Regions from separate parts of the Homo sapiens genome. Here region 2 is linked to region 1. Evidence: fine-mapped expression QTL. A gene starts in region 1. The other region holds a variant in brackets. All regions are shown on one strand. Distances are between the middles of the regions.

Evidence for each region. PIP is the estimated chance that this variant, and not a neighbour inherited with it, causes the effect.
Region 2: its variant is fine-mapped to the expression of DNAJC19 in testis (GTEx, PIP above 0.99). The same link has a PIP of 0.9 or more in esophagus mucosa, fibroblasts and transverse colon.

Annotation. Positions count from the first base shown.
Region 1 is chr3:180,985,863-180,994,209 of GRCh38, forward strand. DNAJC19 (DnaJ heat shock protein family (Hsp40) member C19) reads right to left here and starts at 3,874. Exons shown (of 6, transcript NM_145261.4): 1 at 3,738-3,874; 2 at 2,316-2,367; 3 at 2,161-2,234; 4 at 1,081-1,160; 5 at 64-134. The coding sequence starts at 3,740.
Region 2 is chr3:181,402,239-181,410,585 of GRCh38, forward strand. The region is part of intron 3 of SOX2-OT (SOX2 overlapping transcript); the gene reads left to right. Among named protein-coding and RNA genes, the nearest start is that of SOX2, 310 kb to the right of the region's middle. The variant A/G (reference allele first, on the strand shown) is at 3,850.

The sequences.
Region 1 (8,347 bases):
ATTATCCCATTAATAACTATTGGTCACACCAACAACATCAACGAGAATTTAATGACTACTTACCTTTGTCAGGATGATTTAAAAGCATAATTCGTCGATGAGCATCTCTTATTTTCCCTTTATTGGCAGTAGGGCTAATTAAAAAAAGAAATGGTATTTACTTCATCCTACTTCTGCATCACATCAAAAAACTGTACATAAAGGCCAATTAAAGACACTGTGAAACTGTAGTAAATTAACACAACAGTATGAAAAGCTGTTTAGAAACCTCAACACACCCAATGCGTATCCTAAATTGGGAAACTACTTAGAAAAGTAAGGCACTCTCAAAAATGTGTTGAACTTGCAGTACCCATTACAACAGTCCTTTTATTGATAAGAAACGCATGTTTAAGGATTTGAAAATGAAGAAGGAAGAGTTTTGTTTTTTTTTTTTTTTGAGATAGTCTCACTCTGTCCCCTAGGCTGGAGTGCAGTGGCTTGATCTTGGTTCACTGCAACCTCGGCCTCCCGGGTTCAAGCGATTCTCCTGCCTCAGCCTTCCGAGTAGCTGGGATTACAGGTGTGTGCCATTACGCCTGGCTAATTTTTGTATTTTAAGTAGAGACGGGGTTTCACCATGTTTGCCAGGCTGGTCTTGAACTCCTGACCTCAAGTAATCCACTGGCCTTGGCCTCCCAAAGTGCTGGGATTACAGACGTGAGTCACCGCGCCCGGTTGAAGGCAGAATTTCACCACAAAAAAAATGTCAGTTACAGAGAACAACACTGAACACTGTGATAATCTGCTGAGGAGTCTATCTTTAAATAAATGAAAAAGTGCCTGTGTTTTAGTAAACACTCTAGGAAAAAAGAAAAAGTGCTTAAGTGCTAGTGTGCCTTCTCATTTGAAGGATTGTTTACATCTTAAAAATAACATGAAGGAACAGTACAGTTTCATTGATTAGAATTGGTAATATCAATCTTCCTAGGACAAAATCCCCCATGACCCTCTCCTATTAAAGGAGAGAAGGTCTTTCTTATATTTCCTCATGGCTCTACAGTGGTAGAAAAATGCTAAAAATATTAGAGATTATTTTACCTTACACCTAGTATTAATGCTGCTTCCCGTTTTGTCATTTTGGGTTCAAACCCACCTCTATAATAGCCACCACTGAAGGCCTGAAAGAAGAAATGCATTTGTAAAGAAAGGTTAATAAAATAAAGTTGCTTTAAAAAAGACGTCTGGAAATATTCACAGAACTAAGAAAAACTAAGACATTTCAGAGGACTTTTAGTGCAATTCCCGAGGTATTTTAGCTAAAGCTGAATAAAGTTTATAAATAAGTAGCAACAAGTAGTATTTTAATGATCATTAAACAGATTCATTTTTTTCCAGTCAATATGAACTATCTTAGAAATATAAGACAAAATAACAGTGTCTGAAAGCCAGGTCTTCCGGGAGTAAAGGAAAGATCATTCCAAATTAGCCATATTCTAGATAAAAATCTGCAAGAAGTGGCTCAAGAACAGAAGTCTTTTGAGACAAGAGGTTCAAGTGTATTTGAAACAAGACTTTAAGATATATATACAGAAAATACCACTATTAGGTCCTCTGACCTTGCCATGTCAGAAATCATATTGGTAAAGCCTACAATCACTCTATTCTGTTACACTTAATCACAACATATTCAACAGGTGATCACAGCCAAATCTATTCTTAACTGTGACCACAGAGAGTATGACCATAACATCAAGCCAAACCCTATAGCCTAATTAACTAGAGTGCTACCTATGTATGATGTTTGGGAGTGCCAGGGCCACATGGTCAGATCGGATCACTTTAGAATCATATACCTCTGTGTGTGCGATGCAGAGCAGATGAAGGAAAACAAGAATATGTACAGATGATGCTGAAGGTGATGGTATGTGAAAAAGTGAAACTTGGGTCTAGTGGGGTACTAGAATTGTCAAAACCCCATCCAACTCTGTCACATATAACATCTGATGTTTCAGGGTAGCACCATCACAAAGTTCAGAACTTCTATACTCTCCTTGCAGGAAGCAGGAGAATGGGTCCAAAGCAATCACTTAGAACTTCATGGATATTTGGAAATTTACCCTTCCCTAAGTGTGGCTCTAGGTTTCAAATAGAAGCAGCAAAGAATTAACAAAGTCTTACAGATTTTGGTAGGCTTTGAAAAACTTGTTTTACTTGAGGCTCCATATGCTTCATGGCTTGCAAAACGTAACGGCCTAAAACCAAAAGCAACAGAATAAGTAAACTAAATCTCCAATCTCCCCGACTTCACTTCCATCCCCAAACCATAAACAAACCTGCAAATCCTGCAGCAGCAATGGTCAGTCCAACTGCTACCACTGTACTGGCCTGGTAAGGGGGAGAAGAGTAAATATTTACTTCTCTAATTCCCACCCTTTCTCATTTTGCCCATTCTTCCATCCCCAACTCATTACAAACTGCATTTTAATAGGAGAAACAACTTTTTTTTTTCTTTTTTTTTTTTTTTTTTTAAGAGACGGAGTCTTGCTATGTTGCTTAGGCTGGTCTTGAACTCCTGGCCTCAAGCAATCCTCCCACCTTGGCCTCCCAAAGTGCTAAGATTATAGGCATAAGCCACCATGCCTGGCAGAGAAACAACTTTTAAGGCGGAAATATTCTGTCCAGTAATCTTTAAAACTACTGCATCTGTTATGCTGAATGCATTAAAGTTACAGGATTCATCATATGGGAAAGAGGGCAAGTTCGACTTGCTTATTTATCTTTACAATAGTGAAAAAGATGATTCCCTCCCTTTGAAAACTTCTTTCATCACCAGACAAATTAAGTCACATTAAAGTTCAATCAAAAGTAGTGGAAATAGGCCAGGCGCGGTGGCTCACGCCTGTAATTCCAGCATTTTGGGAGGCGAGGCGGGCGTATCACTAGGTCGGGAGATCGAGACCATCCTGGCTACCATGGTGAAACCCCGTCTCTACTAAAAATACAAAAAAAAAAAAAATTAGCTGGGCGTGGTGGTGGGCGCCTGTAATCCCAGCTACTTGGGAGGCTGAGGCAGGAGAATGGCGAACCCGGGAGGCGGAGCTTGTAGTGAGCCAAGATTGTGCCACTGCACTCCAGCCTAGGCGACCGAGCAAGACTCTGTCTCAAAAAAAAAAAAAAAAATGTGGAAATAAGGTTTCTGCTACAGAAGGAAAAACTGTTTACAGACGGCTCCTGTAAAATTCTAACAACGCATTTTCGAGGCTAAACGTGGGCTAAACTAGGAGACTAATACCTTTGGCACTGCCCTGTTGTTTCCTAACAAGACAGGCCCAAATATGTTCAGGAAGCATGGAGAAGACATCTGTCAGCAAAAGCCAAAGAGAAGGACATAGCAAAGTGGAGCTAGTGCTGTGAAGATGTGTTAGGGCAAGGGCACTTATAATCAAATACGTTTCCACTAATCTCCGAGTCCATGACAGCCTCTGACCTTACAGGAGTTCCAGGCAAGCAACACCTGCAGAGCCCGTGCGGACAAGAAGCTGGAGAACCGTGCAGAAAGACGATGTAAAAACACAAACCCCCAAGAGAGCGAGCCAACAGGGTTGTGTCCTGGTGAGTGTGACTCCCCAATAACCGAAACCTCCCGCCCGCAGTCGCACTAAGGAGCACAACTTCAACTCCACACCTCCGAGGCGGGGAGCTGAGGTTGAGGCCTGGGCCGGAGGTCGCCAAGAAGACCGGAAGGCCGCACTCACCATGGCTCCGGCTGGGCTCCCTTGCTTCCACCGGGAGCACGGCTCATCCCAGCTCAGAGGCCGCGGCCAACACCTGCACGCCTTTACCAGAGAGCGACGCAACCCCCAACCTCAAGCACAGGCGCCCTACGCAACACGGCAGGAGCAGCCGCAAACTAGGCCGGAAAACTGTCGTAAAAGGGGACGCGGAGGAGAAGGAAAGTCGCTCAAGCAGTGGACAGAGCGGAGAAAGCGACTTCGGGTTGGTTGAAGGGTGGGCGGATCTCTTTATTTCTGGGTGTAGGGGTGGGGCTTCTCTGTGTTTTCTGTCCTTTGCTCCTGGGCGGTGGGTATTTGGAAATTCTTGCAGGGAAGGGCATGGGCAGCCTTACTCAGACCGATTTTTTCCCCCTACATCTTAGCACCTCGTTTTGCCTTTATTTTATGTTAATAATTGTCAAGGGTAATGAATGTAGTTAAACATGCTGTGACATTTCCACCACGAACCCAAACAAATATGTTGTAACCCAGTGTAGGAAACGAGATGCCCAGAAAAACAAATGAAACCAACCACACTGTGTTTCAGGGATTGCTCGGTAGCATTTTTTAATGTAAAAGAACTTCATTTAAGGATGTGACTTGACAAGACTTTGTGAATATTTGGGTTTTCGTTTTGTAGAATGGGATTAAAGACAGTTCATATTCTGAACATGGAATGTCAAGATCCTACAACTGAAAAGGGCTATTTAAAAGTTTTCCTCCTCACCCAAAATAAAAAGTAGGGCTGGATTTTGCCCTTACGTGGACATCAGTTTCATACATCCCTACATAAATGCTTGAGAAGAAAAAAATAATGGAGACAATAATGGAATTTTACAATGCAACGTTTGCATGATCAAAATAAGTTTGGAGTTACTTCCCACTCAGAATTTACAGTGTTAAATATCCGTTTACATTGCAATGCAATTCTGCTTTGATGAGTTTGTTAGTTATTAAACAAATATGCAAAATTTTTGGGTTTGTTTTCCTCATCTGTAAAAGCAGTTTGCATTTGATAATCCAAGAGCTCTTCTAGCGCTAAGGTTTTTGTGATGTAATTTATTGTCAACACATGATTTAAGGTGACATCCAGCACTAAGACACTAGCATTAAGTTTATAACTTCCTCTTTTGCCTCTCTTTTATCTGGTTTTTACCCAACAATTACAAAATAAATAATCAAGTGAGGCATAAGACCTTGGGACCAAATTGGCATCAACAAGCTAGAATGCTATCTGGAAAAATTTATTATGCATATTTTTGGTATGTACAAACTGTGTAATGCAGTTTCTGGAGGAATAGATTTACAGTAGACTCTAATTAGCTTTGAGACTTTACAAAACCCAGACTCAGGAAATTGGGAGTAGCAACACAGCAAGACATTTTGTTGAGCTGGAGATAGCTCTTTTTTTGGTGGCAGATCAAACTGGAGGTAACCTGGCTCTGTCACTTACTAATACTGTGACTTGGAAAAGTTATTTCTGATTGAGTTTCTTCCTCATTTGTAAAATGAAGGTAATGATAACTACCTTGCCGAGTTTTTGTGAACGTAGAGATTATGCACATATTGTGTTCTGCTTATGGTCATCACTCAGTGTGGGGCTATTATTATGAGGGAAGCCAGAGTGCAAATTGGAGTGTAGAAGCCTTCCTCATTCTCATGATACCTCACTCATGAATCTTAAGTCTGGTTGCCTCTTACCTACCTGCCAAGATCCTAGAAACAGCCTTGAAAAGTAATCTTTTTAAATGTCCACTGACTGATGAATGGATAATCATTCCTCATTTCTTCTAGCTTCTGGTGACTGCCAGCATTCCTTGACTTGTGACTGAATCACTGCAGTCTTGTAAGCCAGCATCTTGAAATCTCACTCTGCTCCAACTTTTCCATCTTCACATTGTCCTTCTCTTCTGTTTGTAAAATCTCCTTCTGGTTTCCTCTTAAAGGATATATGTAATTGCATTTACCAGCTACCCAGATAATCCAGGATAATCTCCCCTTCTTAAGATCCTTAACTTAATCATAGTTTCCAACACTTTGCCATATAAGGTAACATTCACAGGTTCCAAGTATTAGGACCTGAAATCTTTGGAACACATTATTTAGTTTACTATAGAAAGTAATAAAAGACAAAAGAGGGGGTAGGGACAAAAGAATGAGAAAGGACTCAAGCACATCTTCTTAGTTTCTCATCCCAAATTTTTAAATCAGGTAAGTCACTTCTCCTTGGGAAGAAATAAGTGAGAGTTGAGAGCGGTAGCTAAGAGTGTTCTTGCACTGTGGCTTTCAAACATTTTTTGACTGTCATCCTTAGTAAGAAATATATTTTACACTGTGACCCAAGGAGCAAATACATACTTGCACGCACAGATATACATAGTAGATTTATTTATGAGATAATACTTATCCTTACTTCATGAAATGCATGCTGGTCTTTTCTGTTTCTTAAAAAAATAAGTGCTAGAAAACCTACTAAACTCACAGCCCACTAATTGATCATCACCTAAAGTTTGGAAATTATCACTGCAAAAATCCACACTTGGAACTATAATGCCAGGCAAATAAGGGGTTCCCCCACCAACTAAAAGCCATACGCCAGACATTGTACTAAATGCTTTACATAGATTGTTTCATTTCACCCTGTGAAAGTAACATTTACTTCACTATATTGCTATATTGCTTTGCTATATTGCTGGATGTATTTTGCTTTTCCCCAGATCCTCTCTCTACCTTTTTTTCCTGCTCTGTGCTCCAGAGGAACAGAAAGGTTAGGAGGGTGACCTTAATGAACTGTATCCATGAGCAGCTCTCTCGTTTTCTGGCTTAGGGTTCATTTAGGTCTGTGATCAGGAGATCAGAAGGCAGGAGGAAAGTGAATTCATGGTTTTTATTTCTACCTCTCACTTTCTGGTGATTGTTGTAAGCTGACTGAATTGGTCTGCTGAAGAATACAGCTCCTGTTGTGTGCAAGTGTTCTGGTCATTACTCCTTCCTGTTGCTCCTTCACATTTAAGTATAGTCATGCCTTTGCTACTGGCCCCTGCTTGCTAGGCACAGGGCACTGGAACATTTTGTGCCAGTTTCCCTTAATCCTGTCCACATCTTTGTAAACAGTCCTCTTATTAAACTCTCCATTTGGCCGTGGTGTGAATGTTTGTCTTCCCCCAAATTAATATGTTCAAAGCTAATAACCAATGCGATGGTATAAGGAGATGGGGCCTTTGGGAAGTGATTAGATCATAATGGTAGAGCCCTTGTGAATCAGATTAGCGCCTTCATAAAGAGGCACGAGAGAGACCCTCACCCCTTCCACCCTGTGAGAACACAGTGAGAAGGAACTGTCTGTGAAACAGAAAGGGCCCTTACCAGACACACATGCTGCCTTTGTCTTGGACTTAAGGGTGAAAAGATGGCTGTCTATGAAGAAATGGGCCCTCATCAGACACCAAATCAGTTAGGACCTCACTCAAACTTCCCAGCTTTCCAGAACGCTGAGAAACAAATTTCTGTTTTTATAAGCTGCCAGTTTATGGTATTTTGTTATAGCGGCCCAGACTAAGGCAGTGTACCATCTGTTTCCAACATGAATAGTGACTATTATTTTTATGCTATTTTTTTTTTTTGAGTCAAAGTCTTGCTCTGTTCCCCAGGCTGAAGTGCAGTGGCATGATCATGGCTCACTGCAGCCTCTAACTCCTGGCATCAAGTGATCCTCCCTTCTTAGCTTCCCAAGTTACTGGGACTACAGGCATGAGCCACTGAGCCCAGTTTGATGATGACTTTAATAAGAGGCCGTTGCAATAATTCAAATGAAAAATGATAGTAGCAGTGGTGGTAGAGTGAAGTGGCTGGACTCCTGCTTATATATTTAAGGTATAGCTGAAAAAATTTGCTGATGGATGAGGTATAGTGTGTGAGAGAAAGAAAAGTCAAGAGTGACTCCAAAGCTTGAGGCTTTAGCAGCTGGAAGGATGGATTTGCCGCTGAATGGAACTAGAAAAACTTCAGGAAGAGCAAGCAGGAAGTGGAAGGCTTTTGCCATGTTAAGTTTGAAATGCCAATGAGATATCCAAGTAGTGCTGTCCAATAGGCAGTTGGACATACAACTCTGGTGTCAAAAGAGAGGTTTGGGAGTCATCAGCCCATGGAACAGGTAAAGTCATCTTTGCATGAGTGGAGACAGAAAGAAGAGGAATAAGAACTGTGTTTTGGGATACACCTGTGTTTGGAATCTGGGGACATGAGGAAAAAAAGAGAAAATTATTTAATAGACTGAAAAAGGGTAGGCATAAACCAGGTAAGTGTGGTGTCTTGGTAGCCAAGTGAAGAAAGTGTTCAATGGAGGAAGGAGTGATTAACTGTGTCAAATGCTGCTAATATTCTTCTGAGGGAGAGCCTTTGGAAACCAAAAAGCAAAACAAGCAAACAAACAAATGTTGCTAGTAGTCAAATAATAAAGAATTGAGAATTGACTATCGGAGATCATATTCATGAGAATTTCTGTGGTGTGATGGGAATGAAAGTCTGATTGGAGTGAGTTCAAAAGAGGATGGGAGGATAGAGAGTGGAGATATGGATTATAAGAAATCTCT
Region 2 (8,347 bases), 420 kb after region 1:
ATACCTTATATTCCTTGCTTATACCTGCTATACCTTATATAGCAGATAAAATAGAAATGTATATGTATTTCAGCCTTGCCATCTTACACCTTCCTAGATTTACAATTTTAGTTCTCTTAATTAATAACCATAACTCTTTCCATTTTTTATAAAGTGTTCTGAAAAATGATCTAAAACTCTTGGGAAATACCTTACCAAAAAAGATCCTGCTTCAGAATAACCAAGATCTGGCTAAACAGGACTCTGTGGGGAGATGGGTGTGGCTAGCAGTAAATCCTGGGAACTTCGGATTTATAGGCCTACAAGAGATCTCCATAAACAGCCAGGATAGAGCAGGAGTAACTTCACGGCCGGAGGCAGGACACACACCCTCCACTCTTTCCTCTCCCACTTCTGCTTCTCAGTGTGCCCTCTCTGGAGTCTTTATGGAAGGCACATCACCTGGGAACTAGCATAGCATATGAGAAAATCCTGGGTTTAAATTCTGGCTTTGCCACTTGTGAGCTATTTAGCCTTGAGAGTGTTACTTTACCTCTCCAAGTTTCTTCATCAGTAAAATGAGGCTTATAGCATCTTACCCTTACAAGGCTTTTTTTTTTTTTTTTTTTTGACAGAGTGTCGCCCTGTCACTCAGGCTGGAGTGCAGTGGCATGATCTCGGCTCACTGCAACCTCTGTCTCCCGTGTTCAAGCGATTCTTCTGCCTCAGCCTGCCACGTAGCTGGGATTACAGGCGTGCACCACCAAGCCTGGCTAATTTTTTGTTTTTTCCTGTATTTTTAGTAGAGACGGGGTTTCACCATGTTGGCCAGGCTGGTCTCAAACTCCTGACCTCAAGTGATCGCAAAAGTGCTGAGATTACAGGCATGAGCCACCACGCCTGGCCCAAGGCTTGTTATGAGGACTTGAGATAAAGAATGTAAAGGGCCTGTAATATACAGTAAGAATCATTTTATAATGATTGTTGCAAAAGGAGAAGTTTCCTTGAATGCAATGTTAGGACAATAAGGGCTGCAATCCTCCTAATATCCAGGGTTCAAAATGAGCCTGGAGGGGAGAGGGTAGGAGAGGTAAGTAAGGTAGTGAAGGAGCTCTCAGATTCTTGCACATCAGCTGGGACCTTGTTAGAAATGCACAAACTCAGTTCTTACCCCAGACCTACTGAATCAGAGTCTGCATGTTAACATAATACCCAGGTGATATGCGTGCACATTGGAAGGGAAGAAGCATCGTTGTTAGATATTCCTCTTCCTCTGCTCTTCTAACTCCATCCTTTCTTCCCCTTGTCAGGCAAATATGACCACAAACCTCTTCTCCCGAAATAGCTCAAAAATAATCACAAAAAGAGTAATGGTGAACAACATGTGCCACATACTGTTCTACACACTTGGCACACTTGACATCCATAGATTTATTTAATCCCCCCAACAACACAATGAAATGAATACTATCATCCCCTTTCTACAATTGAGGATACCAAGACACAGGAAGGATAAAGTCACTTACTAGGGGTTATACAGCCAGCAGATACAGGTTCCTGGACCAGGGACCAGGCATTTTGGAACTAGAGTCCTTTCTCTTGACCATCACAGACTCCAGCTTTCCCTTTTACCTCTCCAAATCATGGGGGAACAAAAAAATGTGTTTCAAGCAATGATGCACCTGCCTCTAGAAATATAGGCTCACAAGCATTAATCTGCCCGCACATCCCCTGTCAGAGTTTGGAGCTGGATATCTTCTCCCTAAACTTAGGCAGTTGCTTCCTCAGCAGACTTGCAGCCTCTGGTCTTTCTCCCAGTCCAGGCTGTTCAAACACTGTAGCCAGAATTTTGTCTTTTTTAAGAGCAGCTCTGGTCACCTGTTCCTATGTCAAAACTTCAAGAGCTTTCTTATTTGAATAAAAGTTACTGCTTCTACTTGACATTCCGGTTTCCTGCTTGAGGCACGTCTTTTCTCAAGCCCGTCTTTCCAAAACTATCTCCAAACATCTCTCTTTCCCTCCCAGTACGTGCACATTCGTGGAGCAACACAGCCGTGTGCTCACTTCTCAGCTGCCACATCTTTGTCTCTTTCTAGAATGCATTTCCCATATTCTGTCTGCCTGAGCCACATTCAGGCCCCACACAGATACTCTATTCTCAAGAGACTTTTCTACATGTACAAAGTCAAGATTCATCTTTCTCTCTCTTCTTTTCCTGTTGAACTCTGACTCACTCGTAGGACTTACCACACCCTGTCTTCTATTAATATTGGGCATGTGCCCTGTGCTAGGCTAGTTAAATGTTCTTGAATAAAAATATTGACTGTAGATAATGAACACTAATCTACTTTCAAGTTCAACTTCCTGAAGCACATTTATTCAGCTTTCTCTATGGAGTATCTGGGCATTTAAGCAATTACATTATAGTATGTTGCAGGGGTGGTAGAAACTCCCCTTTACCCTGCAGCAGACTGCTCTGAGAAATCTGACTTATTCATTGATTTTTAACAGATGTGAAAAACAATCTTACATCTATAGCAATGAGTAGCTTTCTGGCTATAGTACTTTATTCATCTATTTTCCCTTTACACCTAAGTTCATTTTATATACAGATGTTTTTAAAAACACATTTTAGGCCGGGTGTGGTGGCTCACACCTGTAATCCCAGCACTTTGGGTGGCGGAGGAGGGTGGATCACCTGAGTTCAGAAGTTCGAGACCAGCCTAGCCAATATGATGAAACCTTGTGTCTACTAAAAATACAAAAATTAGCCAGGTGTGGTGGCATGCACCTGTAATCCCAGCTATTTGGGAGGCTGAGGCAGGAGAATAGCTTCAACCTGGGAGGTGGAGTTTGCAGTGAGCCAAGATCATGCCACTGCACTCCAGCCTGGGTGACAGTGTGACACTCTGTCTCAAAAGAAAAATGAAAAATCCCCACATTTAAAAAGTAGGCTGACCCCTAACTATTGTCCAAAATAGCTCATTTTCTAAAAAGCTGTACACTCTTTATGCAAGTTTACTTCTAGAAATCCCAAGAAATTATCATTAATATATTCAAAGATTAAGCTACAAGGATGTTCATTATAAGGTGACTTATGTTAGCAAAAATTAAAAAATAACCTAAATATTCAAAATAGTAGTGGTTAACTACATCATGATTATGTCCAACCCGTGACATGCTTTGCACTAGCTAAAATTATATTGAAATTGTTGGTGGAAACAAGTTTACGGTATTTTTTAATTGAGCAAAAATCATATGAAAGAATAGAAAAACCATAAATAGGCCCACATAAATATGTCCAACGGATTTTTTTTTACAAAGGCGCAAAAGCAATTTAATGAAAGAATAGTCTTTTCAACATATGATGCTGCAGCAATTGGGCATCCATAGGCAAAGAATAAAATAAATAGTTAAAATTATTTAATAATAAAGTTAAAATTATTGTGTAAAATTATTTTATATAATAATTACTTCATAATGGATCATAGATTTAAATGTAAGACATAAAACTAGAAAACATGTAGAAGAAAATCTTTTGGGCCTAGTGACAGAGTCAAGAGTCTTTATATATGACTGAAGATTTCTTATATATGAAATTGTATGGAGAAGAGAAGAAAAACTGACATTTTGGGCTGTGTCAAAATTAAAACTTCATGCTCTACAAAAGTCTCTGAGAGGAGAATAAAAAGACAAACTACAGGCTGGGAAAAAGTGCCAACCACATATCTGACAAAGGAATTGAATCTAGAGTAAAGAATTCTCAAAACTCAGCAAGACATAAAAAATTATAAAAACAAAAATCTAATTAGAAAATGGGCAAAACACATGAATAGACGTTTTATTAAAGAGGAGATGGAGATGGTAAAT[A/G]AATACACAAAAAGATGTTCAACATTATTGGCCATTAGGAAATACAAAGCCATAATGAGATGTTACTGTAAACCTATCAGTATAGCTAAAATAAAAACTGATAATAGTAGCAATGTTGGCAAGGACAGGGAGACACTGAACCACTCATACATTGCTGTTGGAAGTTAAAAAATGGTACAGTCACTCTGGAAAACAGCTTGGCAGTTTCTTAATAATGAAAACTTTTGATATGCACTTACCATACAATCTAGCAATTGCATTCCTAGGCATTTATCCCAGAGAAATAACAACTTATATCCTGGAGCAAGACCCTGTTTCAAAAAACAGACAAACAAACTTGTGTCCACCCAAAAACCTGTACGTGGTTGTTCATAACAATTTTGTTTGTAATAGTTAAAAACTGGAAACAATCCAAATATCCTTTGGCAATGAATGGTTAAACAAACTGTGATCTGTCTGTACCATGAAATACTCTTCAGCAATTAAAGGAATGAACTACTGATACAGCAATTTAGATGGATCTCAAGGGAATTATAGTGAGTGAAAAAGCCAGTCTAAAAAGGTTACACATGCATGATTCCACCTATATAACATTCACACAATGACAGCATTACAGAGATGGAAAGCAGATGAATGATTGCCGGGATTTAAAGATGCGGCAGAAGAAGGAAGGGAAATGAGTGTGACTATAAAGAGATAACACCAAGGGCTTGGTGGTGATATAATAGCTGGGTATTTTCATCATTGTAGTGGTTACATATATATATATATATATATATATATATATATAAATGTATATTTATATATATTGTTATTTATATATATGCATATATAAATAACAATATATATGTATATACGCGCATATATACATACATATGTGTATATACATATATATGTATGTATATATGTGTATATACATATATATGTATGTATATATGTGTATATACATATATATGTATGTATATATGTGTATATACATACATATGTATGTATATATGTGTGTATATACATATATAAGTATGTATATATGTGTGTATATACATATATAAGTATGTATATATGTGTGTATATACATATATATGTATGTATATATATGTGTATATGTATATATACACATATAAATATATACATATATATAAAAATATATATTTATATATACATATATCTTATGTATACATATATGTAGTGGTTACATATATATATATAAAATTGTATTTCTCTAATGACAAGTGATGATGAGCTTTTTTTTTCATATGTTTGTTGGCTGAATAAATGTTTTCGTTTGAGAAGTGTCTGTTCATATCCTTCACCCGCTTTTTGATGGGGTATTGCAGCACTATTCACAAAAGCAAAAACTTGGAACCAACCCAAATGCCCATCAATGATATACTGGTTAAAGAAAATGTGGCACATACACACCATTGAATACTATACAGCCATAAAAAAGGAGGAGTTCATGTCCTTTGCAGGGACATGGATGAAGCTGGAAACCACCATTCTCAGCAAACTCACACAGGAACAGAAAACCAAACACTGCATGTTCTCACTCATAAGTGGGAGTTGAACAATGAGAACACATGGACACAGGGAGGGGAACATCACACACTGGGGCCTGTTGGGAGTGGGGGGCTAGGGGAGGGATAGCATTAGAAGAAATACCTAATGTAGATAACAGGTTGATGGGTGCAGCAAACCACCATGACACATGTATACCTATGTTACAAACCTGCACGTTCTGCACATGTATCCCAGAACTTAAACTATAATAAAAAAAATTGCATGAAACTACACAGAGACAAACACATACACAGAGGTAAACGCTGTGAATTCTGAACAAAGCCTGTAATGTAGTTAAAGGTACTGTGCAAATGTCAGTTTTCTGCTTTTGATACTGTACTACATTTACATAAAATGTAGCCAGCCTGGCGGTGGCTCATGCCTGTAATCCCAGCACTTTGGGAGGCTGAGGCAGCTGGCTCAATTGAGGTCAGGAGTTCAAGACCAGTCTGGCCAACGTGGCGAAACCCTGTCTCTACTAAAAATACAAAAATTAGCTGGGCCTGGTGGTGCGTGCCTGTAATCCCAGTTACTTGGGAGGCAGAGGCACAAGAATAGCTTGAACCCAGGAGGTGGAGGTTACGGTGAGCTGAGATCAGTGCCACTGCACTCCAGCATGGGGGACAGAGCAAGACTCTGTCTCGAAATAAAAATAAAATAAAATAAAATGTAGCCAATTGGGGAAGCAGGGTGAAGGATATATTGGACTCTTTGTACTATTTTTGCAATTTCTTTTTATTTTTTATTATTTTTAATCCACTCATCTGCACACAGATATATTTGCAATTCCTTATAGTTTATGATTATTTTAAAGTTTTAGAAGTCTATAAAACAATATGTGTACTTCAACTATGTATAAATAATTTTAATTTGATGTCTCTCAGTTGCTCATATAGCAGTATTTGTTACACAGTAGGCACTTTATTAAAGAGGCTCTCCTTTTTCCCCTTAACCTTATGGATATTATGAATCTTGTACCTGACCATGCTTCCTCCTTAGCTTGTGGCACGAAGCAGCACCCCTGTTGACTCTGGTATACTAGGTTATGCTTTCCTGTGCGTGCAGCTCACCCTTGGCCTTATTACTGTTCAATCTTTATTCTTCCTGTGCCTTACCTTTCTTAACCCTTAAATGTACCATTAATATATTTGACCATTAATACATTTAAGGATTAAGCTACAAGGATGTTCATTATAAGGTGACTTATGTTAGCAAAAATTCAAAAACAACCTAAATATTCAAAATGGTAGTGATTAACTACCATAGATGCTGTACCTCTCACATTACATATATGCTTGGAAGCCACGTTAAATATCTTGTAGAAGGTGTTGGGATGGAGGGTACCGAGCAAGTGTTGATGGATTCCCGTATTCTCCACCATGACTAGGCACCAAAAGAGGACCCTTCCCTGTTTCTGCAGCAGATAGATTTTTCAGAGTTTAAGAGAGCCCACTCTGCTTCAAGCGGGCCCACAGAGTTCCATTTAAAGTAGATCTAATAAAGAAATGGCAGGCAGAATCACTTAATACGTTCAGCACTTGATTCTTCAAGTGACTATTAGCTGCTCTGTGTAAAGCCTACAGCAAATTCTTAATCTTCAACCAGCTTTCACCTATCATCCAGCTGTTTTTTGCTTAGGGAATTAAAGCTGATGTTTATAAGTAACTAAGCAAAATACAATTAGGAAGGAGCTCTATTTTAAAGGAGGTATGTGATACATTCCAAAAATAAGTAGGTATCCCAGATTGTAACTTGATTTTTAAAAAATCAATTTTAGCAAATTAGTCATAATATATTGTTACAGTTATTGATCATTTTTTCTTCCATTGAAAAGTACTGTCATTGATAAAGAGACGAAGCTCATATTTCCTAAACATTAATAGTGAAAAAAAACATATGCAAATAAGTATGAAGATATTTTCTATGGCTCTTGAATTGGACCAAGATATGTGTGTTCTGGTATATATGCTTAAAATCCTTCCACCTGGTCAAAATGCTTTCAAAAGGGAAAGAATAGCTGATGCCTCTTGTTCAGACTGGAAAGTATTGTGATTACACTGAAAAGCATGGCCCCTCTTGAAGTTTAGTTTTTTACTTCTTTTATTTGAGTATAAAGCAAAAAGGAGGTTTCTCTAAGATGTCCTAATAGAAGCTTTTGAATGATCTGCAGAGGTAGCATTGAGGTGAATGGAGTCCATCAAGATTTGCCAGAAGTATGAAATAATTATCGAAAGGATTCCATTAGAGACGAAAGCTACCTAGACTAATAGAGACAGAAAAGGCTGACCCTTTTCAGGCTCTTAACTCTCTCTAATGGATGGCCTTAAGTTGAAATCAAGACTCAACTGGATCATTGATTCTTAAGGAAAAAATATTGAGCATAGTGGCGTATAAGCAAAAATTGTAAAAGTGGTCAGACAGATTTATCTTTTAGTTATAGTTTGTAATGAAAAGTATGTTTTTTACCTTTTTCTGCGCTCACAGGAATGGAGGCTAAACAATGTGACATATTATCATAAAGTAAAAATTAGTTTTAATAAAAAAACAAAAGTCTTACTTTAATAAATACAACATGTTTCCACTCAACAAAAAGAAATCTACAGATTTTTTGGATAAGTGTCATTATGTGTTACCTATTAGATAACACAGAGTGTTTTTTGGCTGGTAATTGACCCATAGGTCAAATCCTGCACTTTCCTCTGAAGGGATCATGGAAGTGCTACTCCTTCACAAGTTTTGGAGCTATATTTTGCAGTGCATGCTTCAGTAACCCACATGCAAAGCACACACTCACATACAGACCAGGCATATCCATGCACAGGCACACACACCTGGCTAGGGTAAACAGGATCAAATCCCTGAAATTATCTAAAATTTCCTGTGTTTGTTGAAAACAGTGACTGATGCCTTTGCGTTGGTTGTTCCAAAGCACTTCATTGCG